4 linked regions of the Homo sapiens genome follow. Each later gene encodes a partner of the first gene's protein in a complex. Each region holds a gene or a part of one and is shown in the gene's direction. Other genes may lie near its edges.

Evidence for each region.
Region 2: DAB2IP (region 1) and PAK1 share a complex: the UniProt entries of both Homo sapiens proteins name them as parts of the cytoplasmic complex.
Region 3: DAB2IP (region 1) and DCP1A share a complex: the UniProt entries of both Homo sapiens proteins name them as parts of the cytoplasmic complex.
Region 4: DAB2IP (region 1) and MAP3K5 share a complex: the UniProt entries of both Homo sapiens proteins name them as parts of the cytoplasmic complex.

Annotation. Positions count from the first base shown.
Region 1 is NC_000009.12:121,647,708-121,654,646, forward strand, and holds the start of DAB2IP (disabled homolog 2-interacting protein), read left to right. Parts: upstream 1-3,926; 5' UTR 3,927-4,068; coding exon 4,069-4,192; intron 4,193-6,939. UniProt on the Homo sapiens protein: Functions as a scaffold protein implicated in the regulation of a large spectrum of both general and specialized signaling pathways.
Region 2 is NC_000011.10:77,331,074-77,338,099, reverse strand, and holds part of PAK1 (serine/threonine-protein kinase PAK 1), read left to right. Parts: intron 1-676; coding exon 677-776; intron 777-1,817; coding exon 1,818-2,014; intron 2,015-5,232; coding exon 5,233-5,370; intron 5,371-7,026. UniProt on the Homo sapiens protein: Protein kinase involved in intracellular signaling pathways downstream of integrins and receptor-type kinases that plays an important role in cytoskeleton dynamics, in cell adhesion, migration, proliferation, apoptosis, mitosis, and in vesicle-mediated transport processes.
Region 3 is NC_000003.12:53,344,521-53,351,594, reverse strand, and holds the start of DCP1A (mRNA-decapping enzyme 1A), read left to right. Parts: upstream 1-4,051; 5' UTR 4,052-4,077; coding exon 4,078-4,212; intron 4,213-6,652; coding exon 6,653-6,693; intron 6,694-7,074. UniProt on the Homo sapiens protein: Necessary for the degradation of mRNAs, both in normal mRNA turnover and in nonsense-mediated mRNA decay. Removes the 7-methyl guanine cap structure from mRNA molecules, yielding a 5'-phosphorylated mRNA fragment and 7m-GDP.
Region 4 is NC_000006.12:136,607,452-136,614,477, reverse strand, and holds part of MAP3K5 (mitogen-activated protein kinase kinase kinase 5), read left to right. Parts: intron 1-191; coding exon 192-319; intron 320-1,221; coding exon 1,222-1,358; intron 1,359-3,090; coding exon 3,091-3,196; intron 3,197-7,026. UniProt on the Homo sapiens protein: Serine/threonine kinase which acts as an essential component of the MAP kinase signal transduction pathway. Plays an important role in the cascades of cellular responses evoked by changes in the environment.

The DNA of each region.
Region 1 (6,939 bases):
TTTTTTAAGGAGGGGGTGCTTCAATTTGCAATTGCAAAAATGTATATATACACACACATATATATACATAAACACACATATATACGTATATATACCCATATATACACATATATATACATACATATACATATATATTATATATATACATACATATACGTATTATATATATATACGGGTATATATGTATATATATGATGGAATACTACTCCGCCATACAAAGGAATGAATTAATGGCATTCCCAGAAACCTGGATGGGAATTGGAGAATATTATTCTAAGTGAAGTAACTCAGGAAAGGAAAACCAAACATCATATATTCTCACTCATAAGTGGGAGCTAAGCTATGAGGATGCAAAGGCAGAAAAATGACACAATGGACTTTGGGGACTCAGGGAACGGGTGGAAAGGGGGTGAAGGATAAAAGACTACAAATTGGGTTTAGTGTATCCCAAGTTACTGCTCGGGATATGGGTGCACCAAAATCTCACAAATCACCACTGAAGAACTTACTCATGTAACCAAATGCCAACTGTTCCCCAAAAACCTATGGAAATAAAAAATTTAAAAAATAAAAAACTGAGGGGATGCTTGAGCTGGGTCCTGAAGGGTAAGCAGGAATGCACCAGGTGGGTGCAGAGGGAAGACCTTGGTGGCAGCGGTCCAGGTCCCACCAACAGGGCGAAGACTGGTGGTGGGAAAGAGTGTCTGGAGGATGACCAAGGGGGCTGAAATGGGTTGGGGTGCAAGCGGGAGGTGGTCGCTTTTTGACACAGCTTGGTCTCTGAGAGTTCGCCTTGGGAGGCTTTTGAGGGGAGGGTAAAGGTGCTGGTGGTGGGGTTAGGTCAGATCTGATTTAGCCAGTCCTAGTACCCACACCCCTACTTACTAAACTTGCATGTTTCCAGGCCCCATCCAGACCCACTGAATTGAGCGTCTTGAGGGAAACTCAGAAATATGCCTGTTCACTGAGTGAAGGTGATTTGGGGGCTGCAGCCCTGTCCCCGCTAAAGCAGCACATGGGAGAGGTGGGAGCTGGGCCTATTCAGGAGCCCCTCTGGAGGTGGGAGAATAAGACCAGACCTTTAGCCCTGTAGGTACTGAGGCTCTCATGTTGGCAGGGCTGGAAAGTCCGATCTGTTGGTCTGTCACAGGAAGCAGTGGTAGCAATGGTGGTGGTGGGCACTGGAAGCAGGGCTTCTCCTGTTCAGAGAGAGAAAGCCACAGGGGCGCCGGCGGGAGGTGGGAGCAGATGGGGGGCCAGTTTCCCAGCAGGATTGATTCCAGGTCCCCTGCTGGGCTGTACAGGGAGCGGCCTTTAACTGCCCTGTTCCTGGGCCAGGAAGAAGGAAAAGGAGCCTGGGCTCTTTCTCTCCTAGCTCCTGCCCTGCCCCCTTCCCACTCAGTACCCGGAGAGTACCTGCCCCAGGCCCGTGGAGATGCTCGGCTCAGCTGGTTGGCGATGCCCATTCCCATCCCAAGGGTAGAAATGCACAAGCTTCCTCCATTTCACTAGCTGACCCTCCTTCCTCCACAAGGCAGATGGATTGGGGGTCCATACGTTCTCCCTATAGGTAGGGAAACTAAGGCACAGAGAAGGACTTGAAAAGCTGAAGTGGGGAGACCATGCCAGACCTTTGGAGCCCAGCTGTGCTTACAGATGAGGTCCTGAGTTCCAAGTTACTGCCCCCTCTCCCCTCCACACACACTCCTCAGACTTCCTGTTGGGGGCCCAGGCTAAGACCACTTGCCCACACCACTGATAACAGTGAGTTGATTGTGAGCCTCCCGTCCCCTCCAGGGAGGGCTGGAACCTGGCTGATCAGAGGGTTCCTGCTTTGGGAAACAAAATGGGCCAGATGAACTCAGGCCCTGGGAGCAGGACCGTTGCCCCCGTCCTGAGTAGGACTTCCTGGGAGTCCCTCACCCCCAGAACCCGTGGACCTGGCTACGGAGGTTAGTCATGCCTGGAAGTGCCAAGATGTGGACAGGTGGTGCTCAGAACCCCACCTACGTGAGGAGGCACTGAACTGGGTTCTGGCAGTTTGGCCAGAGGAGGATGCATGCTAACAAGGCCCCCAGCTTGCCTGGGGACTGAGTGACTGTGTGTGCGCTCTGTCCAGGGGCTTCTTTTTAGAGACGTTCCTGCACCATGTCTGCTGTTGAAAGGAGATAGGGCAATGCCTCCAAGCTTGTCTGACCTGCAGCCTACCGGCTGCATGTGGCCCAGGATGGCTTTGAATGCTGCCCAACACAAATTCATAAACTTTCTTAAAGCATGATGAGGTTTTTTTGTGTGTGTGGTTTTTTTGTTTGTTTGTTTGTTTTAGCTCATCAGCTATGGTTAGTGTGAGTATATTTTATGTGTGGCCTGACAATTCTTCTTCTTCCAGTGTGGCCCAGGGAAGCCAAAAGATTGGGCACCCCTGGCCTAACCCAAAGGAGGCTAAGGGTGTCCTCTTGGGCACCCTGGTTTTCCATCTTCCTGTGGGATTGGCCAGTATTCAGGGAAGAGGGGACCAGGGCAGCTGATAGCTCTGGACTCCTCAGACTGAGTTTGCTGGAGTAACACCCCTCCTGCCCCTCCCCCCTGGTCAGGGAAGGCGCCTGGCTTCCAGCTGTGAGACAGGCTCCGCAGGACTAGGGACCCTCCCCGCTGGCTGAGAGCGCTAGGGAGGGGGCTTCCCCTGTGAGGTGCAAAACCCGGCCTGGATTTCTGCCCAGACGGCCCCGCCCACTCCAGGGCCCCACCTTCCCCACTGTTCTGGAGGAAGATCCCCTAGCCGGCCTCAGGCACTTGCGGTGACTCACACCCCCCACCCCTAAGTCTGAATGTTGAGAGCCCCAGGCTAAGACCACTTGCCTCTGCCACTTTCCATGTGACTGAGGCAAGACCTCCTTGCCAAGGCCTCAGTTTCCCCCTCTGTACTTCAAAGGAGGCAGCTCAGGCAGGTGTCTTAATAATTTAAACGACGAATATTGCTAAAGAGATAAGGGGCGGGGAGAGAGAGAGATCACTGTGGGCCATGGTTAGGGAAGGGTGGAGGAGCTGGGTCCTGAAAGGGTGGACTTTGGTCGGGTGGAGAAAATAGCCAAGAAGGCAGTCCCTGCTGGCAGCACAGCAAAGAGAAGTGAGAATTAGGGGGAGCAGAGGTGAGGCTGGAGGGGACTTTGGTTGGGGCAAGATTATTTGGGGTCCAAATAACAAGGATGTTTAGACGTATTGCCATTGTGCTCTGGGGAGCCACGGAAAGCTCTTGAGCTGAGGAGTGACTTGGAGAAAGTTTTTCAGCCAATGCAATAGAGGGAGTTGGTACCTTTCCTTCTGCCACCCTGAGTTTCTGGTGCCTACGGTAGGGTAGGGATTGTTCTGCCCTGCCTTCAGTGCTTTGAGTGCTTGAAACAGACACCGTAATTTTAATTACATAAAAATGATACGTGTATCAGACGGGACAACCTTTAAAACGTAAAGAAGAGGCAAGTATCCTGCATCACAGGGGAGTCTTTCAACCTGGCTGGGCCAGGGCCTGCGGAGCAGTGAGGGTCGTTTCTCAGCCCAGCGAGCCTGGGGCAGGAACGGACCCTAATTGAAGGTGACCGTCCCCAAGCATGCGTCCTACCCCGGGCTCCGGAGAGCGCACAAGCAGGTGTGCACCGTCTACCCGCGCTGGCGGGATTGGGTGCCTGGTGCGCCCTCAGGTCGACGGTCGAACCCTCGGGGGCGGGGGTGGGAGCCAGAACCCTCGGGACGACCCGTCTGGGGTCCCGGGGAAACTCCGGGCCGCCTCGCCCCGCCGATTCCAGGCCGGGATTTCTCCCGCACTGACTTTCCGGGCCGGTGCCAGCCCGGCCTCCGGGTCCCCAGCCCCCGCCGCGGGGCCGGCTGCTCGGGGAGCGGGAGGGGGCAGGAGGCGGAGGAGGAGTTTGAGCGACTTTGTGGGGCAGCCAGGGCCTCGGCGGCCGCTCGGGCGAGCGCGGGAGAACGCGTGGGCGCCCGCCGGGCTGTCCGGAGCGGCCGATGGGGCCCGTGTGAGCGCGCCCAGGCCCGGCCCGGTGCCCGGCGGGCGGCAGCATGTCCGCGGGCGGCAGCGCCAGGAAGAGCACCGGGAGGTCCTCCTACTACTACCGGCTGCTGAGGCGGCCCCGGCTGCAGCGACAGAGGAGCCGCTCCCGCAGCCGGACCCGGCCTGCCAGGGGTAGGCGCCACCCCGACCCCTGACCCCTAGACCCTCCTAAGGCCACTAAGCCACCTGATGCCCTGGGATGCTAGGGACCGGGATCCTCCTTCCAGCCATTTGCCGGGGGTTTCCTCATCCGCCCCTTCCTGAGTCTGCCGGACCCCCCATTCCCCCAGCTTCTGCTTAGTCCTCCTCTCGCCGGGGGAAGCCGAGGCTCTAGGGTCTCCTCTTAAGCCAGGGACAGGGAGAGGGGAGCCTGGAATCTTTCTCCGCATCTCAGATCAGACCTCCTACCCCACTGTGCCTCAGTTTACTCAGCAGCCGGGCAATAAAGTAACCCAGGGTGGATCTGAGCTTTCCCACACCTTGCCTTCCCAGCCCAGGCCGCGGACTTCTTTCTTCCCTTTCCAGGAACTTAACGGGCTCCCCACCTCTTGGGTGCTAGGACAAGTGGGTGGACCTCAGGGAAGGAACCGTGACCCCTCGAGCGGGTGGGCGCCAGCTCCTTTGCAAAGTTTCTCTCCATCAAGCTCAGGAGGCAGGACGAGACGGAGGGGGAGGTGCGAGCAGCATTTTCTTTTTCCAGTAACAGGATCCTCGGCTGGAAATGCGTGTGATCCCGGGGGCTGCGTTTGGGCGGGTGGTGGCCGGGACTTCCTTCCCTGGCTGAGTAGGAGGGAGGGAAGCCCCTGGGAGGAGGAGGCCTTCAAAGGGGCTCTGGGGAGGCTGGAGTCCTAGGCAGAGGTTCAGGCCCACCGAGGGTGCCCGTGGGGTGGAAGGGAGGAGAAAGACGGCGCCTTAGCAGGGACCTGGGCCGAGTTGACACCATCAGGTTATCTTGAAAGTGGGAAGCCGGGCCCTGTGCCAACAAATGCCATGCAGGGAATCTGGTAGACCAAGAGGGGCCACATTCCCACCCTGCAGGCTGCCGTTGTGTGACCTGGGCTGAGCTGCCTCTGAACTTCAGTTTTCTTGTCGGTGTGAGGGTAAATGAAGCAGGCAGGTAGTGTTCGGTTGCTTCCACCAGAATGGGGAAGACTTTTCCCACAGTCAGGTCTGAGTAGCACTGTGCAGTCCAGGGCTTCCTCAGGAAGTAGTGAGTTCCCTGTGCACAGAAGGGTTCAAGCTGAGGCTAAGTGTGTGCACAGGTGTGTGCTGGTAGTTCAGTCCTCAAGGGTCTCTCAAAGCCTGCAATCCCCCCACTCCTGCCTTTCCTGAAGTCTTAGTAAGTACAGAATTAACAGTACTAAGTTACTTAGTAAGTACAGAATTAACAGTACTAAGCCTTTAGTACTCCTTGGAGGGAGTACTAAGCCTTTAGTACTCCTTGGAGGGAGTACTAAGCCTTTAGTACTCCTTGGAGGGAGTACTAAGCCTTTAGTACTCCTTGGAGGGAGTACTAAAGACCTGGGGAAGGCTTTATCTCAGTGGTTCAGGTTTTGGTTCTTCTATCTCTGTCCTTCTATTTAATTCTGTACTTGCTAAGACCTGGAGAAAGGCTTAGTACTGTTAATTCTGTACTTACTCCCTTCCCCTGGACTTGGTCTGGGAGACCGGGAATCTGGGCTCAAGCTTTGTGACTTTGGGCAAGTCATTTCCCCTTTCTGAGCTTAGTTTTCCTGGTTGTAAAATGGACCTGCCGTATGTGGAGGATTCAGTGAAGAAACTGAGAAATGGGAGCTTTGAAAATGCCCAGTACTGTTCAGACCACCCTGGGGCCTCTCCTTCTGCACCCACCTCACGTCACCTCACCCACCCGCCCCTCCTTTGCCTCAGAAATGCCCTGTGTGACCTTTTCCTCTTCTCACCTCAGCCCAGTTCCATCCCTGACTGTAATGGGAGTCTCGCTCCTGTTCAGCTGACCTCCTGCTCAGCTGACCAGGCAGGGGATAATCAATGTGTCAGGGGCTGTCACCTGAGCCCCAGCTCCCAGACCCCACATACACAGGATCACTGCTTGTGTCCCAGCTTGAAGGAGCTCACGGCCTGCAGAGCGGGGAGGAGACTGTCTCTGAACAGAAGTTATATCTGGGGAGATCAGGGAGAGCTTCACAGAGGAGGTGACATTTGGATGGGATCTCACAAAATGGATAGGGTTTCCCTTCGCAGAGGGAGTAATTGAGTCAGATCTGGGTTCAAGTCTCAGCTGTGCACACAACTATTCTACAGCCAGTTACCTCTCCAAGCCTCAGTGACCTTGTGTGGTCAATGGGGCTAGCAGTGACAGGGTCATGTGAGGGCCAGAAGCCAGTGCCTGGGACTAAGGCTGCAGCTGAGGGTGAGCTACTGTCTTCTCTCTGGACAGAATGAACAGACTGCGCAGTCAGGGAGAAGGAAAACGGCTTGGGTATTGAGAATAGAGTTCCTCCTGGGTTTGGGGAGGGGAGTGGATTGGGAAGGGGGCTGGGTGAGTGGGTGGGGAAGAGCAGGCAACAGTAGTTTGGATTTGATAAAGGGCCTTGAACTTTGGGAGGCCAAGGCAGGAGGAATCCTTGAGCCCAGGAGTTCAAGACCAGCCTGGGCAACATAGCAAGACCCTGTCTCAATATTGTTTTTGTTTGTTTGTTTGTTTGTTTTTTTAAAAAAAGAAGGCCTGGAGTGATGAGGAGTTAGTTACAGCTGCAGCCAGGGTGTAGGGTGGAGGCTGGAGGCACCCTGTCCTCCTCCTCCTTGGTGGGAGGCAGCTAGGGCAGCCATTGCCCTCCCTCCACTAAAGCCTCAGACGCCTGACTCTACCCCAGAGCCACAACCACCACCTGAGGGCA
Region 2 (7,026 bases), on another chromosome or scaffold:
GTCTCTTTATTACTCATTCTGCCTGCTAAGTATAGGTGTTTTCCAAGATTCTTCTCTTTCTCCTTTACCCTTTGCCGGGTTCAACCATTTTTATAACTTAAACAAAAATCATCTCTTCCCAAATGACTTGTAAATATTTACCATAATTTATCATAAATTAAGTTGCCTACCAGACATTTGTCTTCAGATATCAAATTCAGCATATCCAAAATAGTACAAAATATCTCCTCACCAAAATAAGATTATCCTGCTAACTTACTGCTTCTAGTATCACTTCCATATGTCTGCTTCCTCAAATATGACCCTTATTTGTTGTTTTCCTCTGGTCTGTCATTATAAGATCCTTTCCATTTTTCTTCAGTAATTTCTCTTGGGCCTTAGGTCCTTTACCAAGGATCTAATTAGAAAAAAAATTACATTGGAGGAACTCCTTTACTTAAAAAAACTGTTTTAAGGTGAAAGGCAGCATGGAGTGTTAAAAGAATGTTTAGCTAGGAGATGGAAGACTTGTTTCTAGATCTGGCTCTGCGATTGATTTGGGGCAAGTCCTTTTACTCACTGGGGCCTTACTTCCTTTATTTTAAAGTGAAGAGGTTGAATTAGTGGATTTTCTATTAAGTCTTCTGTATTATATGTATGTCCTTTCTTTCTCCCCCTGCCCACACCACTTCAATAGTGTCTGCAGGCTCTGGAGTTCTTGCATTCGAACCAGGTCATTCACAGAGACATCAAGAGTGACAATATTCTGTTGGGAATGGATGGCTCTGTCAAGCTAAGTAAGTAGGAGCCTTAGGAATGATAATACTTCTCTGCCTGTGGGGCCCTGTCTCCTGTGAGATGGTCATCATATAATAGTAACTACGACACTCACCAAAGGGTCTTTATGATTTCATGGGATATGAGGGCTGTTTTATATTTTCTGTATTAATCATAGGATATCATTTCATTATTTTTTCATTCATTTATACATTTAACAACAACCACAAAAAACTTTGCTGAATGGTTACTCTGTGCTAGGTCCTGTGATGGGCACTGAGAGTAAATTTTCCCTACCTTCTCAATCTAGTATGGAAAACGTGTAATAGATAATTAGAAAAAAGAGTTTTGTATAATTTCTTTCATTCAGTTATTCAGCAAACTTTTATTGAATGTCCAGTACATGCTGGTCCTTCTAGGGATATGAGGACAAGTAAGAGGACATAATCCATACTCTCAAAGGCTTCCTAATTTAAATAAATTTATAATTGCAATATAATGTAAAAACCATGGCAGGTAGAGCATTTTGTTCAAAGGTGTAAAGACCAGTAGACCAGACAAACAGGCTGTGTCATGGGTGGATGGGCAGTTTATGGAAGGACTGCTAGCAGCCCTGGGTCTGGGGCATAAAAACAGGGCCATGCCTAGTCATAGGTGATTGGGGTTTAAATCAAGGACTCGTGCCCAAGGAATAAGACAAGGACCTAGTCGCCAGATTTGGGATTATGGGAATGGTTTTTCAAGAACAAAGCAGAATTGGGATGAGCAATCAAGACCAAAATGGGCAGCTTGGACTTTAACACTAAGTCCCCTGGTTTGAGGAGAAGTAGGAGGCCAGAGATGGTGTTTCTTATATTCCTTCTATTTCTCTTCAGGGTTCAATAGGAAATAGGCTAGGAGCTAGACATGAAGGTGGTAGTCAAGTGACTTTGGAGAGACAAAGGATAGCAGAGCTGGAAGCCAGGCGGATCTTGTCACCTATGTGTAGGTACACAGTCAACACTTACTGAAGTGAGTGTATATCCTAAATGTATGTTCTTTCTCTTATTTTTCTTTTCTAGCTGACTTTGGATTCTGTGCACAGATAACCCCAGAGCAGAGCAAACGGAGCACCATGGTAGGAACCCCATACTGGATGGCACCAGAGGTTGTGACACGAAAGGCCTATGGGCCCAAGGTTGACATCTGGTCCCTGGGCATCATGGCCATCGAAATGATTGAAGGGGAGCCTCCATACCTCAATGAAAACCCTCTGAGAGTGAGTGTTACCAGTTCTATTTCAAGTTATTTGGGCTGTTGTCTCTAGTCCCAGGAAATAAGAATCCAGGGTGTTCTCTGTGGTTTTCAACCTGGAGATCCCTTTTCTGGATACAACTAGTCACTGTTGAACTTAAAGTATAAATGGCCAAAGAAAAGGAATATTAGAAGTCACTCATTCATTTATTCAACAATTATTTGAGTCCCTGTCAAGTGCAAGAAACTATTCTAATGAAAATAAAATAAATTAATATGTAGTAACAGATGGTAAATGCTGTGAGAAAAAGCAAAGTAAGGGAGTTAACAGAGTAATGGAGGAACAGGTGTGCTATTTTAGAGTAGAGAGGGAAGTTCTCTCTTATAAGTTATTTTATTCTGCAGAGTTGGGAAGTCATTAGAGGGTTTTGAGCTGAGGAGTAATGTGATCTGATTTATGTTTTAAACAGATCATTTTGGCCGCTTTTATGGAAAATAGACTGCGAGAGACTGTTGTAATAGTTCAGAGTGGTGGTGTCTTGGTAGGAGTGGAAGTGAGAAGTGGTCAGATTCAGGAAATTAAAGGACTAGCTGACAAGATGAACTGAATATTAGAGAAAGAGGAATCAGCAATGACTACAAGATTTCTGGTCTGAATTGCTGAAAAAATTCAGTTGCCATCTGTTGAAATGGTGAAGAGCATACTTAAGTTGGGTAATAAAGAGTTGGTTTTGAATGTGCTGATTTGAAGTGTTAATTGGACATTTAAGTGGAGCTGGAGTAGAGTTTGGCTTAAGAGTCTGGAGTTCAAGGGTGAGAAGTCAGGACTATAAACATAAATTTATTAGTAGATAATATATAGTTGGTATATATAGTAGGTAGATGAGATCACTCACCTAGGGAATGAGTACAGTTAAAGAAAAGAGATTTGAGTACTGAGCTCTAGGTTATTCCACTGTTTACAGGTTGGAAGAACTAGCAAAGTAGACCAAGGAGTGGCCTTTCTAGTGTGAGAGAACAGAGAAGTGTCTTGGAGGTGAAGTGTCCTGGAGATGAAGAGAACAGTGTGCTTCCCGAAGGAGGAGGAGGGTAGATTATGTGTCAAATGTGATTGATAGGTTAAGATGAGACTGAGAAATGAACATTGGATTTGCCAATGTAGAGGTTCTTAATGACCTTAATAATCAGTTATCAGTAGAGAGATGGGGATGAAAGTCTAATTAAATTCATGAAAGTGGAAGAAGAGGACATTGAGATGGCATGTATAAACAGGTTTTTTTTTCTCTTAAAGGAATTTTGCTGGGAAGGGTAACAAAAATGGAGCACTATCTTAAAATGGAGTCAAGGGAGGGTTTTTCTAAAAGATGATGTCTGTGTGCTAATGGGAATGATTTAGTGGAGAGGAGGAAAATGGTCATGTACAAGAAGGAAGTGACAACCATAGAAGTGATATCCTTAAGTCGATGAGAGGGGTTCGATCAAGTACTGAAGTAAAGGACATTAGATTAGCATGGACAATTTATCCCTTGTAACAGAGCATCTCAACACAGGTGCAAATAGGTTGGTAATCTTGGTGTGGGCAAATGTGAAATTTATTCTGATTGCTTTTATTTTCTCATTTATTCCCACCTCCCATCCAGTGCAGGAATTCCCTGTGCACTGTTGCTGGTAGGTGGTCATCTACATGCTCATGTCATCCTTGAATATCTCTGATTATTGGAAATTGCTTCAGTGCACCAAACTGAAACTACCTTCTGTAGTTTCTATCCTTTGATCCCAGCTTTGCCTCTGACTCCACATACAACATACTCTTCCCTCCCTTAGAACGGCCTTGCAGATATTTGAAGATGATAATTGCTGGGATATGTTGGAAATAAGACAGAATGATCCTAGACATAGGCATATTTTTTTATTTTTTTATTTTTATTTTATTTTTTTTTTTGAGATGGAGTCTCACTCTGTCACCTAGGCTGGAGTGCAATGGTGTGATCTCAGCTCACCGCAACCTCCACCTCCCAGGTTCAAGCGATTCTCCTGCCTCAGCCTCCTGAGTAGCTGGGATTACAGGCACCTGCCACCATGCCCAGCTAAGTTTTGTATTTTTAGTAGAGACCACATTTCGCCATATTGGTCAGGCTGTTCTCGATGGTCTCGAACTCCTGACCTCAGGTGATCCACCCACCTCAGCCTCCCAAAGTGCTGGGATTACAGGAGTGAGCCACCACGCCCGGCCCTAGACATATCTTTTTATGTTTCCGGACCCTATCTGTGAAGTGAAGATGATAAGTCTTGCCCTATTACCCAGAGTTAATTGTGGCCATTAAATTAGACAGTGCTTATGTAAGTACTCTTTGAATTAAGTGCTGAGTGCTTGTAAAGATTTAGTCTTACTGTTTTTCTTTACCTTTCCCAGGAGACGCTTCATTTAGGGGACTAGGGTGGCAACAGTTTTCACTTACATTTAATATTCCTTTCCTGCTAGAAGAGATCAGTTCTTGGATGACTGAGGTGAAGGCACCAGGAATAATTTCTGCCAGCAGCTGGGCAGATGTTTAACTCAACAGGCTAAATGGATAATAAACCCTTCAGATGTGTAAGCAAGAATAATAATAAAGCCAGGCACAGTGACTCACGCCTGTAATCCCAGCACTTTGGGAGGTTGAGGCAGGAGGATCACTTGAGTCTAGGAGTTTGAGACCAGCCAGGCCAACATGGTAAAACCCCGTCTCTACTGAAAATACGAAAAGCAGTCGGGTGTAGTGGCTGGTGCCTGTAATCCCAGCTACTTGGGAGGCTGAGTCAGGAGAATTGCTTGAACCTGGGAGGTGGAGGTTGCAGTGAGCCAAGATCGTGCCACTGCACTCCAGCCTGGGCGACAGAGCAAGACTCCATCTCAAAAAAAAAAAAAAAAAAAAAGAAGAAGAAGAATAAACCCTTAGGTCTGTAACATATTTCATAAGTTTACAAAGTACTTTCAAATACACTATCTTATTTTATTTTTACAGACATGTGAGATGGGCATTATCATCATCCCTACTTTACAGACAGGGAAGTTGTACATAGTCCCATGGCCTTTAAATGTTCAACCTGATCCTTAGGTCATACTCTTTCCAGTATATATACACAGCTGCTACTTTGCATCCTAGAGCATAAAGCAGCTGACCATATTTCTAGAACTTGTATATGGGGAACAAGAGAGAGCCTCATTTGGAGCTCAAGGTGATTCACCATTTTTATTGCCAGGCCTTGTACCTCATTGCCACCAATGGGACCCCAGAACTTCAGAACCCAGAGAAGCTGTCAGCTATCTTCCGGGACTTTCTGAACCGCTGTCTCGAGATGGATGTGGAGAAGAGAGGTTCAGCTAAAGAGCTGCTACAGGTAACTGTCCTTATGCAGGGAAGCACCTAATTCAGGGAATCACTAAACCAGGCCTTTTTTACTTCATGTTTGTAAGGTACTGGATATTATAGAACTAGGCTTCTCTTCTACCACTTCCTACACTCACTCTGTTCCTACTGCCCTTTTATCCCTGGGCCTTTGCTCATTTATTTTCTTAGCCTTTCTCAGCCTGTTAAAACTCTACACGTTCTCCTAGGCTCAGTTTACAATCTATTTTCTGAGCACCTATTGAGCTTTGCTTGTAGCTTTTTTGCTTGCTTCCTTCCTTCCTTTCCTTTCTTCTTCCTTTCCCTTTCCTTCCCTTCCTTTCCCTTCCCTTCCCTTCCCTTCCCTTCCCTTCCTTTCCCTTCCCTTCCCTTTCCCCCCCCTCTTCCCTCTCCCCCTTCCTCTCACGCCCCACAGGGTCTCACTCTGTCACCCAGGCAGGAGTGTGCAATGGCGTGATTTTGTCTCACTGCAGTCTTCCTCTCCTGGGTTCACTCAAGTGATCTTCCCACCTCAGCCTCCCAGGTAGCTCAGACTACAGGTGCACGCCACCATACCTGGCTAGTTTTTTAAAAACTTTTTTGTAGAGACGGGGTTTTGCTATGTTGGCCGTGCATGGTCTCAAATTCCTGGGTTCAAGCGATCTGCGCACTTCGCTTTCCCAAAGTGCTGGGACTACAGGCATGGGCCACCATGACCAGCCTGCTTGTATCTTTCATTAGCACTTCCTTTGTTCTGTTTGAATTAGTCTGGCAGAGTTTGTTTGAGTCTTGTTGAGAAACGGGTCTCTGACACCCAAATCTTACACAACTTATATTTTGCTGGGATTAGCTCAAAGGATACATTTTTAGCAAAGGAACATAAGTTTATTTTATTTTATTTATGTTTTATTTTTCTTTCTTTTTTTTTAATTCTTTTTTTTTTACATTTTATTATTATTATACTTTTAAGTTTTAGGGTACATGTGCACAACGTGCAGGTTTGTTACATATGTATACATGTACCATGTTGGTGTGCTGTACCCATTAACTCGTCATTTAGCATTAGGTATATCTCTTAATGCTATCCCTCCACCCTCCCCTGACCCCACAACAGTCCCGGGTGTGTGATGTTCCCCTTCCTGTGTCCATGTGTTCTCATTGTTCATTTCCTACCTATGAGTGAGAACATGCAGTGTTTGGTTTTTTGTCCTTGCAATAGTTTGCTGAGAATGATGGTTTCCAGTTTCATCCATGTCCCTACAAAGGACATGAACTCATCATTTTTTATGGCTGCATAGTATTCCATGGTGTATATGTGCCACATTTTCTTAATCCAGTCTATCGTTGTTGGACATTTAGGTTGGTTCCAAGTCTTTGCTGTTGTGAATAGTGCCACTATAAACATACGTGTGCATGTGTCTTTACAGCAGCATGATTTATAATCCTTTGGGTATATACCCAGTAATGGGATGGCTGGGTCAAATGGTATTTCTAGTTCTAGATCCCTGAGGAATTGCCACACTGACTTCCACAATGGTTGAACTAGTTTACACTCCCACCAACAGTGTAAAAGTGTTCGTATTTCTCCACATCCTCTCCAGCACGTGTTGTTTCCTGACTTTTTAATGATCGCCATTCTAACTGGTGTGAGATGGTATCTCATTGTGGT
Region 3 (7,074 bases), on another chromosome or scaffold:
AGGGCTCTTACCTCCAGCCACTGGAAGGAAGAAAGGCATCTGGGGCGTGTAGGAAAGGATCCCAGGGTAGAAGATAGGAGTCCCTAGATTCTAATACTGGATCCTCTGTGACTAGTGTGGAATTTTGAGCCAGTGAATTCTCCCCACAGGTCTCAATTAAATCATCTGTCAAATGAGGGTGACGACATCTTCTCTACCTCACCACTGAGCTGTGAAATGAACCAGAGGCCTTACTTTTTTCCCCTGAACTCCCAGTCATCCCTAGAACACCAATTTGAACATCATCTCCTTCAGGAAGCCCTCCTAGACTTTCCCAGCCAGTTAAGTTAGCGGCTCTGTCCTCTGGATTTCAAAGAGAAATGTCTCTAGCATCATCCCTGTTTCCTTGCACTGTCCTACTTTCTTTTTTCCCTCAGAGCCAGGAATGTCTTAAACAGAGTGAGATGCTCCCAAGGGGCCACCAGCTCACAATTAGGAGTTCAATAAATACTGACTTAAGAGTGAATGAATGATATCTGTGTCTTTGTCCACATTTGTACATGTTTACATGATTCTGCAAAGAATCTAAATTTCTCTTTACATTAACAAACAGGGGGGCTGGGCACGGTGGCTCAAGCCTGTAATCTCAGCATTTTTGTTAACCAGGACAGCCCTGACAAAATAACTGGGAAAGTTCCTTTTTCTTATTGTTTTTCTTTGGTCCCTTTATCTATAGACACTGCTGCTTAAAGAAACCAGATGGCGCCAGAGCTTCTTGACCCCTGACCAGATGCCAGAGGAAGATAAGACACCATAAAACCAGCGCAAATGGGAACTGGCAAACCCTGGGTGCCTTTAGATCATGAACATATCATTATAATGCTAATTTCCCTTCCCTAAAAGAAAATCTCTGCCATTTTGTGTACATATGATATATGAAGATGCATGTTTATGAATTGGGCCTGCGTGTCTGGAGTCCCACCCTGCACATACTAACATTCCTTTCCTGCCCCATAGGAATAAAGGCAATAAACCCCTTGCCTTTTATTCTTCAAGAAAAGATGCTTTCAGAGGAAGAGCTCACCTTCTCCATTCCCTGGCAAATGAATAAAACCTGATTGCCTTTTTCAATGGGATATTCTTTGTTTGTGACTGATACACAGTGGGGAAAAAACTCATTTTATCAGGGACACTTTGGGAGACCCAGGCCAGAGGATTGGTTGAGGCCAGGAGTTTGAGACCAGCCTGGGCAATAGAGCCAGACCCCATTTCTAAAAAAAAAAAAAAAAAAAAAAAAAAAAAGTTTTAATTAGCCAGGTGTGCTGGCACACAATTCAAGTTGTTTCACCTTTCTGGACAGAACCAATATACACCTGAAATGTATTTGATGTCTCATCTCTCCCAAAAATGTATAAAACCAAGCTGTGCCCCAATCACCTTGGGCACATGTTCTCAGGATCTCCTGAGAGCTATGTCAAGGGCTATGGTCACTCATAGTTGGATCAGAATAAATTTCTTCAACTATTTTACAGAGTTTGACTCTTCTCATCAACACAATGACAAAAAACAGTGGTCCTGGGATATAAAATCATAGGCAATACAAATATTTAGTGTTATTTTCTTGAAAATATGGTTTTATCTTACAAAAATTTTCAATTCTGTTGGGGATGTCAATTTTTTTTTCTTTCCAGACGTAGTCTTGCTATGTTGCTCAGGCTGGTCTTGAACTCCTGACCTCAAGTGATCCCCACCTCAGCCTACCAAATAGCTGGGACTACAGTTACATGCCACCATGCCCCCCCCTTTTTTTTTTTGGATGGAATTTCTCCCTCTGTTGCCCAAGCTCTGGAGTGTAGTGGTGCAATCTTGTGTCACTGCAACCTCCGTCTCCTGGGTTCAAGCTATTCTCATGCCTCAGCCTCTTGAGTAGCTGAGATTACAGGCATGTGCCACCACGCCCAGCTAATTTTTGTATTTTTAGTATAGATGGGGTTTCACCATGTTGGCCAGGCTGGTCTCCAACTCCTGACCTCAAGTGGTCCACCTTCCTCGGCCTTCCAGAGTGTTAGGATTACAGGCGTGAGCCCACACATCTAGCTACCATACCCTTTTTTTTTTTTTTTTTTTGAGTCTTGCTCTGTCGCCCAGGCTGGAGTGCAATGGCACCACCTTGGCTCACTGCAACCTCCGCCTCCCGGGTTCAAGTGATTCTCCTGTCTCAGCCTCCCAAGCAGCTGGGACTATAGGCGTGCGCCACCACGCCCGGCTAATTTTTGTATTTTTAGTAGAGACGGGGTTTCACCATATTGTCCAGGCTGGTCTCAAACTCCTGACCTCAGGCGGTCTTCCCACCTTAGCCTCCCAAAGTGCTGGGATTACAGGCATGAGCCACCACGCCCAGCCTCCATGACCTTTTTAACGAAAGAAATGTTGCTTTTTAAGAAGTCTGGCGGGGATAGAACTCCCTATAGTCTCCATGATTTGTTTTACTTGTTAGCTAGTGCCTAACTCTTTCAAACGCTTTAAAATGCTCAACAGACACTTACCAATGAAATGAGTGATCTGCTTAATGCTTTAAATGAAGCAAGACAAATTAAACCCTTCATGGACTCTTCCCAGGGCTGGACAAAAATATTTATGTGGGTCAGACGCAGTGGCTCACGCCTGTAATCCCAGCACTTTGGGAGGCCAAGGAGGGCAGATCACCTGAGGTCAGGAGTTCAAAACCAGCCTGGCCAATGTGGTGAAACCTCGTCACTACTAAAAAAAATACAAAAATTAGCTGGGCGTGGTGGCGGGCGCCCGTAATCCCGGCTACTCTGGAGGCTGACGCAGGAGAATCGCTTGAACCCAGGAGGCAGAAGTTGCAGTGAGCTGAGATCGCGCCACGGCACTCCAGTCTGGGCGACAGAGCGAAACTCCATTTCAAAAAAAAGAAAAAGAAAAAGAAAAAATTAGCCAGGTGTGGTGGCGGGCGCCTGTAATCCCACCTAATTGGGAGGCTGAGGCAGGAGAATCGCTTGAACCCTGGAGGCAGAGGTTGCAGTGAGCTTGAGATTGTGCCACGGCACTCCTGCCTGGGCAAAAGAGCGAGACTCCGTTTCAAAAAGAAAAAAAGAAAAGGGCCGGGCGCGGTGGCTCAAGCCTGTAATCTCAGCACTTTGGGAGGCAGAGGCGGGTGGATCGCCTGAGGTCAGGAGTTCGAGACTAGCCTGGCCAACATGGCGAAACCCCGTCTCTACTATAAACACAAAAATTATCAGGGCATGGTGGCGCGCCCATGTAATCCCAGCTACTGGGGACGCTGAGACAGGAGAATCGCTTGAACCTTGGAGGCGGAGGTTGCAGTGAGTCGAGATCGCGCCACTGCACTTCAGCCTGGGCGACAAGAGTGAAACTCCGTCTCAAAAAAAAAGAAAAAAAATCCACTTGTACCTTCTGCTAATCAGTGTATATATTCAAGGCAACTTGAATCTATGCTCCTGGGGTGCAATCCTCAAGCTTGGCCCAAATAAACTCTCTGCTTGCATTTATTTTGCCCCAGAGTCTTCTTCCTTTTAGGTCGACACATCCATATCTGAGACCTAGGGTAATTTTCTGGGCTTCTCGCCTCTCCCTTTCCCCCATGTTTTTCTGTGCTCTCTAAACGGGCCCGGTAGAGTCCCGCATTTCCACATTCCACAGACATGTTTTCCTTCTGTGGCCCCGGGCCCTGCCAGACAGCGCACCGCGAGGCCGGCACTTCGGCGGTCTCCAACCTTTGCCTGGAAAGAGCTCGGCAGGCGAGCTAGAGGCCAGATCCCAGGACCCAGTCGTTTTAGCTCAGGGAAAGGAAGCGCCGGAGCTCCAGCCTGCAAGCTCCACTACGCAGCCTTGGACACCGCCCACATCGTAGGGCCGCGGACCCTGACAACGCCGGAACCCGGCGCCCGGAGCGTGCGCGCGGCGGACCAGAATGGCTGACGTACCGCCCTGCCGCGAGGCCCGCGTAGAGGCGGAAGTTGAGGGGACTGACGCAGATGGGGGAATTTTGCCTCGATGGCACTTTCCTGTCCGCGACTCCGCCCCCACCAGAGGGGCTAGGCTCTGGGATTCAAGATGGAGGCGCTGAGTCGAGCTGGGCAGGAGATGAGCCTAGCGGCCCTGAAGCAACACGACCCCTATATCACCAGCATCGCAGACCTCACGGGCCAGGTCGCTCTGTACACCTTCTGCCCCAAGGCCAACCAGTGGGTGAGTGCCGCCTGGCCCTGAGGACGGCCACCCGGCCGCTGCCGTCTCTTAAAGGGGCCGCGCGGGTTACTGTGGGGTGGGGGGGCACACTAAGAGGCCAGGGCGGTGGAGACGAGGCCAGGGTCTGGCCAAGAGCCTAGCCAGAGCCTGAGGGGTGTCGGGTCCGCTTGGGATTGGGGGATAGGAGTGAGAGAAGTGGCTCGAGACATCCCAAGGAAAAGCCAGTGGAGGGGAGGATTGGAGCAGGATCAGTCCCTTGGCGTCGGGTCTGGGGACGTGGGCGACCTGCCTTCTTTGCAGATACATTGGGAGTTATAAGACCGGTGGGGTCAAAAGGGTGCCTGAAAGCTTGTGTTTGAGGCTTTGCGGATTATTAGATAAATTATATGTACATTATCTATAAAATAAACACTCCTCCTCTCCCCCTGGCAAACGTAAATGAGAGCCCCTGTCGCAGAGGTCATTTGGGTTTAAAGTTTAAAATCCAATTAGTTTCGATTCTTGGAAGGAGGGGGTGGGTGGGTCCGGCTTTAATCGAACTACACAGAGTTTCGGAAAAGATTCCAAGGCACTTAGGAAAAGGGCTTCCGTGTTCACTGGATCCCCGAAGACCTTTGTACAAACAAGAGAGACCCTGTAAATGTGTTTTGTTCCATCTATGATGCTGGTGATGTCATCTCTGAATGCTCCCCTCGGACTCAGTACTTTCTGGCTTTCGTGCACTGGGGAGGGTCCGAAAAGTCACATTCAGTGTGTTCACTGATTCTTGTTAGCCCCTGCTTGAAGCTTTGTTAGTTGTTTAAAAAGCATAATTTCCCACTTTCTTGTAATTGACCCTTCCTAATTAACTCATTCAGCTACAGGCTTTACACTTAGAAAGTAATACGTAAATGCTTGTTGGATTGAATTCACCAATGACTGGAGTTCACATTTCAATAAGATACGAAATCCTTAAACTGACAGAACTCTGGAAGATGACCGTAGTATGTCGTTTACCCTATAATACAGTTGCATAGATTATATTTATCAGTAATTTATCGAAAATCATTTGGCATTTATGAACAGTTAATTCAGATGAAGAGTTTTTATAATCACGTTGTTTATCTTTGCCTCCTGGAAGAGAAGGAGATATGGGAAGCCACAAGGAATAAAATTGTAGATTGTTTTTTAAATGTAGCTATTTTAGACATTGCCTTAGTTTGAAATTTTATGAATCTTTTTTCTTTTCTTGGCCTATATATAAATTTTGAAATATGGATTGCCGACAAATGGTGAAGACTTGGGGCTAGAGTTTTCCTAGTTTTTCACAAAGGCTTTCAATATTTTAAAATTTTACATTGTGGAGTTCTGTTTTAAATATGAAATACAAGCTATAATAACCTGAATTGAAAAATAAGCTGCTACTGTTTATTTGGATCCTGGCACATAGAGCATGACAAAAATCTTTTCCCTCTTTATTATTTTACAGTGAGTTGTAACTTTGCATGATGTTTTTTGGTGGGCAAATTTTCTTTTACTGTAAGACAGTTGATTACCAGTTTCTTATAGTAATAACCTAACATTTTAAAGGTAAGAAAAAGCCTCTGAATCCTTAGGAAGGAAAATAATGATATTTAAGCTAGGGTAGTACTTCTGGAAGAAATCGAGATGATCAATTTTCTAAATTTTTTAATCCCAACACATTCAATATATGACTAACATTTAAAATGTTAATAATGCGTTGATTACAGTAAAATATTTAGGTCCATTGTAGGCTGTAAATTGCAGACTAATAAGCTTATTTATTTTTTAAAAAACACTGAACTGTGTTTAAAACCTAAATACACTCTTGTCACAGAAAATGAACTATGGTAAAGGCCTCCAATAATTACACTGAGGCAGGGTATACTTTCAGTATTCAAGATTCTTCAAGTTCTAAAAATAACAAGCTGATTTTGTTTGGTAGTAATTCTTAACCACAAAATTTGCTAGTTGTCAAAATGTACGAAAACTCCCTAGTGATGAAACAAAGTATCCTATAAGAAAGTTTCATTCCTTTCCTTTTTTAAAATTAACTTGGATAAACTTAAAAGAGAAGAAATTGCAGTATACAGGACCTTAGCTTTAAAGTTAAGAAATCTGGCTAAAATATTTTAGCTATAAAAAGTGAAGGTTTATTCTATGATTTTCTCCTTTACTAATTAAAAAAGAAAAATACTGCAGATACAGATATGTTGCTGGATTAAATATTGCATATGCTTATGCACTGAAAGGATACATTAGAAATGGTAACCACAATTTGTGGAATGAGAGGGAGACTTTACCTGTTCAAAAGTGGTTAATTTTATAATAGATGAAATGAAACAAGTTGATCTTAAACGTGAAGCATTACTTCTCCATGGGGACTATTTGGGGTCTGATTATGGGGAAAAAAAACTAATTGAGTCATTGTCTTTCATAGGAGAAGACTGATATAGAAGGGACCTTATTCGTATATCGAAGGTAAGTTTTTAAAATATGTATATTTGTTTTTAACAGTCTAGTGGTGAACAATGTGAAACGGTTCAATTCTCTTGTACATTTGTCTTTGGAACCGTCCTGCTAGTACCCTTCAAGTTTTCATCTTTCCCTAGCTGTGAAATCTTAACCAGGTTCTTTCTTTTCTCTGAGCCTTTCTGTGATTCAGAATAAACTGAACTAGAATTTATATTACCAGCCTAGCAAAGCAATTTCAAAATAATAATGATTGAGTCTAAAATGGATGCCTGCGTCTCTCTTCCTACCCCCATATTAGAAAGAAAAAGAAAGATATATATTTGGGGAAAAGACAATACATAGACTGGCTCTGTAAAATAATGTTATTGAGAGGTCGATCCCTCTGTT
Region 4 (7,026 bases), on another chromosome or scaffold:
CATTTCCCCTCAGATCCTACCACACCTTCAACCTCATAGAATTTACCTTAGGAGAAATAAAGGCCTTAAGTGGTTGTTTTGGTTTTACATATGGACATATATTTGGCTGACATTTTCCATTTGTATTGTTTAAATTTATACAGTAAAGTCTGGCTACATAATTAACTCATTGACAATTGCATGTCTTTTAGATACTCTCAGCCCCTGCATGAAGAAATAGCATTGCATAAACACCTGAAGCACAAAAATATTGTCCAGTATCTGGGCTCTTTCAGTGAGAATGGTTTCATTAAAATCTTCATGGAGCAGGTCCCTGGAGGTAAGAGATATTTCTTTCTTTAAAAAGTGTGAATGTTTAGAGCTTCGGAGGGGAGTAAAATTGAATGGGATTTACTAGCGTACAGGTCTTAATCTGTCTAAACTGAAAGAAAAATTGGACATGTGACATTACCTCCAGTTTGTTAGGAGATGTCAACCATAAATGATGAGATTTAGAAAATATCCTAATGTATAGAGTTTATTCCAGTGCAAAGCTTGAGGATAGCCACCCAGGAAACACAGACTCCAAAAGAATGGGCCAGTGTTCCAAAGTGAGGAAGTTCATGTTTCACTTATATAAGCTGAAGACTAACAGGGTGGCAACATCTTCTACCCAAAGTCATTACATTTAAGTGGTTACAGCTTGCTGTATTCCAAGGCACATTATTTTAATGTTCCATAAGGAGGGGTAATGGTCTCGGGGGATCTTTTCTTTGGCACCATTCAGTCTTCTCCAATCATTTACAGGACAAAAATGCGGAAGAGATTTAGCCTATAATCGCAGAATCAGAAGTTACAACTGAATGCTATATGACTCAGGCCACAAAGTCACATTCCTTAAATAATAAGGCTCAAATAATTTAAAGTTCTAGAAGCTTTACATGTGAATTATGTAATTTCACAGAGACAATACATAAATATGGGAACCATTTCAGTATCTATCATCATGACTTGAATTAAAGTTGGCAATTGACATTGGCCTTTTACTTAGACATATTTGATTACAAGCATCTTTAGAGTAGGGATATTTGCAAATTCATGTTTGAGCCCGATATCCAGTATAGCTCCTGGGCCACTGTGAAGAACCAATGACTGTTAGCTTAAATTACTGTTACATTATTAATACACTTTAAAGAGCTCATTTGAATGAGGATTTATTTACTATTTATCCCTACTTTACAGGAAGTCTTTCTGCTCTCCTTCGTTCCAAATGGGGTCCATTAAAAGACAATGAGCAAACAATTGGCTTTTATACAAAGCAAATACTGGAAGGATTAAAATATCTCCATGACAATCAGATAGTTCACCGGGACATAAAGGTGAGGTACACCAGCATTCATTTTCATGAGTTCTTTCTTTGCTGGGTTATTATTTTACTTGCAAAAGTCATATTGTGTTATGAGTATTAATTTAGAATGGTGAATAAGTAAATCTTAGAAACAGCAGAAATATAAAATATCGTTCAACCCTGAATCAGTTATTTATGTTCATGTCTTAACGCTTCTGCTCAAGGAACACACTGCTTAACTGCGTTCAGCCAACAAGATTGTGCTCCCACCACACAATGTTTCCTAGGAGCTCTGTGGTGTGGGATGCAGCTGTCAAAAGTTAAACAGGAGATGGCCCCTGGTCCTGAGGAGCTTATAGGCTGGTTAATCTTTGTATCCTTGCCCATAGTAGCTACTCAGTAAATACTTATTGAATCAATGGATGAATGGTTAGAAGAAAAAAAATTCCTCTTTTCTCACAAGTATCACATATTCATTGATTTAACTATAATTATAAGGTATAGATTCTCTAAAATAAGCTAAAATAATAACTTTACATTCTCTTTTTAAAAAGAAAATTCAGAACTAATACATTTTTTACAAAGTCTGGACTGTTGAAAATAAGTTAATATTAGTACCCTAAAATCAACCAAAAAGCCCATTTATCTATCATGTCCCTACATATTCCAGGAAAAGAAGTAAAGAAACATAGAAAAGAAAGTAAGGTAACTGGAAAGTTATGAAAATCGTAATTTAATTATACATACATCATTATATATCTGTAAATAGCAACAAGCTCTAACCAATTAGGAATCATATTTGATCTTGTGATCTGAGTAGCAGATTATGAAGAACTTATAACCATCCAATGAGTTCATGTTGCCCACTGACCAGATAGAGCTGATTTCTCAAGATGTAAGAATTGCAATTGAGAAAGAGTTTAATACACATAGAGATGGCCAAACAAAATATTGGATCTTATAATTATTCAAATCAGCTTCTCCAAAAATTTAGAGGCTAGGGTTTTTCAAAGATAGTTTGGTGAGCAGGGGGCTAGGGTCTGGGTGGTTGGGGATGTAATTATAGGGGTGTGGAAAATGGTTCTTGTGTGTTGAGTCCACTTCTGGGTAGGGGCCACAGGACTGGTTGAGTCCAGAGTCACAGGTCTGGGTGATGCCATCTGATAGTCAGAAATGGAGAAGCCTGTAAAGACATCTCAAAAGGCCAGTCTTCAGTTCTACAATAGTGATGTCAATTATAGGAACAATTGGGGAAGTTGCAAATCTTGTGACCCCCAGAATAATGGGCTGATAATCATTTGACTGTGCCTACATCTTAGCGGACTTTAGGCCCCTCTCATCCTCCTAACCTGGTGGCCTTTCATTAGTTTTACAAAGATAGTTTAGTTTTGGGGAAGGGCTATTATCAACTAAACTATAAATTAAATTTCTCCAAGTGAGCTTGGTCTACACCCTGGAATGACCAAGGGCAGTTTGGAAATTTAAAGCAAGATGGTGGTGGTTAGATCAGATCTCTTTTACTGTCATAATTTTCTCACTGTTGTAATTTTCGCAAAGGCGGTTGGTTTCAAACTGATAATATGTAAACAAAAAATAGTGTCAAGAATGCACTATTGAGATAAACTATTAATGAAGAATACAGAATTAATGTCGTTGGTAGCTGTAAGGACACCTTTTTTTTTTTTAAATTGGACTTACCAAGTCAACAACAGACAGTATCTGAAGAAAGATAACAATTGTGATTAAAGTCCTCTGTTCTCTAGGGTGACAATGTGTTGATTAATACCTACAGTGGTGTTCTCAAGATCTCTGACTTCGGAACATCAAAGAGGCTTGCTGGCATAAACCCCTGTACTGAAACTTTTACTGGTATGTTTTTGCAATGATGATACAGATCTTATGTAATTAAAGAAATAATTGCTGAGTTTGAGCACAATGTGAGAGAGAAATTCAGTTGGTGTTCTCACACACAGTAATGTTGGTATCTTTTTTCTTTCTTTTCTTTTCTTTTCTTTCTTTTTTTTTTTTTTTTTTTTTTTTTTTGAGACAGGGTCTTGCCCTGTCACCTAGGCTGGAATGCAGTGGTGTGATCACCTATCACTGCAGCCTCAAACTCCCAGGCTCAAGCAATCCTCCCACCTCAGCCTCCTGAGTAGCTGGGACTACAGGCATGCGCCACCACGCCCAGCTAATTTTTTTGTATTTTTGATGGAGACAAGGTTTCACCATGTTGCCCAGGCTGGTCTCAAACTCCTGGGCTCAAGCGATATACCTGTGGCCTCCAAAAGTGTTGGGATTACAGGCGTGAGCCACTGCGCCTGGCCAATGTTGGTATCTTTTGATGCTCACTGAAAAATGTGTTACAGAATTTGATTTGGCCCTTTTCTCTTCCTGTATTTATATGACTTGCTTAGTTAGTCTCCTGCTTAATGCCACTGAAGATTTTTTTTTTTTTTTAATTCTCAACTTGTTACTTATTTTTCTTTTCATGTAATTACTTCTTTCCTGGTTGGCCTACAATAACTCTAGCAAGATTTTTTTTTTTTTTTTTTTATTAAACATTTCCTTGGCCCAACCTCTCTGTGATGCTTACTCATACCCTAATCACTTCCCATTTGGACGATGAATTCCCTCTTTTACTGTTTACTCTCTGTGGTTGACTCCCCTACTCCACAATATAAATAACCCTAGGATTTCAATTCAGAAGAGGAAGTGACTCACCGACTCAGAAGAAGGGAGGGAGAGAGCTTTCCTGAGAAAGTAGGCAACGCAACCACTGAGCTGCCTCTGGTGCAAAGTACTGGGAGGGTGGAGACCAAGTGATTTCCAAAAAGGTAACAGTAGCCAAGAGGAAGCTCAGACTCAAGAGATTCATGACTGCCCAACAGTTATAGGGAGGGTGTGTGAGACTTCAAACCTGATCTCCATTTAGTTCTTATCACTCCATCATGCTAATTCTCATGAAGTGTTAAGTTCTTCTTATAGAGAGAAATTTAGCAGGAAAAAAAAAAGGGTAAGGGGAAGGGAAGAGAAAAAGATCATGAATAATCTTTGGTCTAATATGAAGCAACATGGCCCCATCTCAATTCTGTGAGGTAGGTGGGAGTACCTCCATTTTGTAGATGAGGAAATTACCTGGGAGAGAAGTGACATTGCAGTCAGAAGTCACAGCAGTGTGTACCGGATAGAACTCAGACTGGTTTTTTGTTTTTGTTTTTGTTTTGAGACTGGGTCTTGCTATGTTGCCCAGGCTGGTCTTGAACTCCTGGGTTTAAGCAGTCCACCCACCCCACTCTCCTAAGTATCTAGGATGTCATGCCTGGCAAAACTGTTTTTTTGTTTTTGTTTTTTCTTTTGAGATGGGTTCTCGCTCTGTAACCCAGGCTGAAGTACAGTGGTGTAATCTCTGCTCACTGTGACCTCCCCTACCCCGGGCTCAAGTGATTCTCCTACCTCAGCCTCCCTAGTAGCTGGGACCATAGGCACGCACCTCCATGCCTGGCTAATTTTTTGTATTTTTGGTAGAGACAGGGTTTCACCATGTTGCCCAGGCTGGTCTCAAACTCCTGACCTCAAGTGATCCACCTGCCTTGGACTCCCAAAGTGCTGGGATTACATGTGCGAACCCCCACGCCTAGCCAGAACTCAGATTTTGTATCTACTGTTTGCTCTTTGCTTTTACCTTCTGGCTCTAGTCCATCTTTCTCTCTACCTTCCTGCAGGAGGAGAGAGAGACATTCTGTGTAAGTTTTTTCCCTAGAGCATTCAGTCAGCAATACCCCTGGCCCAGCTCCCACCTCAGGGCAATGGATATTTTAGGGTACAGAATTAAACACATTTTGAATATATTTTTTTGAAAAAACTAAATTCTGACCTATTAATAACTTCAAATGTCTTTACATTTCTTTCCTCTTACTCTTAACTTGGCAAGCAGCAGTTTCAGTGCTGTCAAGACTCAGTAATTTCTGAGAGGAAAATCCCTCGTTTCACACACTTTGTGGGACAGGATGTTAACACAGTATCTTCTGCTACTAATCTGGGGAACATCTTTTTTGTAAAATCTCCAAAGGAATTGTAGGAAAGCAGTCCTCACAGAGCCCTTTTCTTGGACCTCTTCCACTGGTGTCACGTAAGAGTGACGTGTGTCACTAACATGTATAGATCTGTCCCCAGCACCGGTCCCGAGGGCCCTGCACATCATAGGCTTCAAACGTGAACTTGGTGGTCACTAAGTCCCAGGTGGGTTAGTCCCAGGTGCTCAGTCAATAAATTGGTCTGCATCACCTTTTGGTGATTTTGATGAGGGAAAAGGCAGCAGTGATCACCATTTATGGAGTGCTTACTGTGTTACCTTGCTCTGCACTAAGTGCTTTACATATGTTGTTTTATTGAAATTCATACATCAGCCTTAATCATTAGGTATCATTATCCCAGTTTGTGGTGAGAAAATGAAGGTTCAAAGAGGTTGAATAACTTGCCCAAGGTCACAAAGCTAGTTGGTAATAGAGCTGAGACTCAAGCAAGACTTAACAGGCCAAAGGGAATTAATTATCTTCTCCCAAACCTGTCCCCGGCACACTCTTCTGTCCCAGTTGGCAGCCACTCCCGACATTGTTATCCAGGGCACTTCTCTTTTCTCACACTCCAACCCAGTCCGTCCACGAAGCCTTCAAAACATGTCCAACATTGGGCCGGTTCTCACCACCTCTGCTGCTGCCACTCTCATCGCTCACCTGCATTTTCGGTGGCTTCCCCAACTGTGCTCCTGCTTCACTTTTGCCCCCTACTGTCTACTCTCAGCACTGCAGCCAGAGTGATCCCTCTGAAACATAAACCAAGTCCTATTGCTCAGAGCCCTCAGTGGCTTGCTTTTTTTTTTTGTTCAGAGTAAACAAATGTCAGAACCCTCATAGTGGGGGACAAGGCTCTGACCTGATTCGGAGTCTGTTCCCTTTCAGACCCCATTTCCTACTCTTCTTCTGTTATTTACTCAGAGCCAGAAACGTGGACCTTCCTGCATTTCCTCCATGACAGCAGGCAGGGTCCCATCACAGGGCCTTTGCACAGGCTTTTCCTCCTGCCGCTACCCCAGCTGTCTGCATGGGTAACTTTCTTACCTTCTTCCAGTCTCAACGCAGATGTCCACCTCTGCAGTGAGACCAGCCATGAACACCCTATTTACCATGGCAGCCTTCCTGCTGATCCTCTTCACTCGGGTCTATATTTTTTTGGTCATAACATGTCACTTTCTAACATGCTGTATAATTTACTTACTGTGCTGATAATTTATCATCTGGCTTCTACTGCAAAAACATAAGCCCAGGTATTTCTATATGTTTTCTCCTCTGCTGTATTCTAAGTGCCTAGAACAGTGCCTGGCCCATAGTAGGTCCTCAGTGTGGATCTGTTAAATGAATGAGTGAATGAATGAAATGTGACATTAGAGTTTAATTAACCACTAAGCTGTACCACCTCCCTGGGTAGTTGCAGCAGCAAAGAAATTCTACAATAGATATTTCAAAGCAATTTTTTAAAAAAACTTTAGAATGCAGATATGTGAGGTATGAGTTTTAGAGCAAATACTCTCATTGATTTTACTTAAGCCAGTGTTCAGGTTGGCTCTCATCTTCATTATCCAGCTTCGTAAATTGCTTTGTTTAAAATATTATGTGTCATGTATTTGTGGAGTAAAAAGAGGA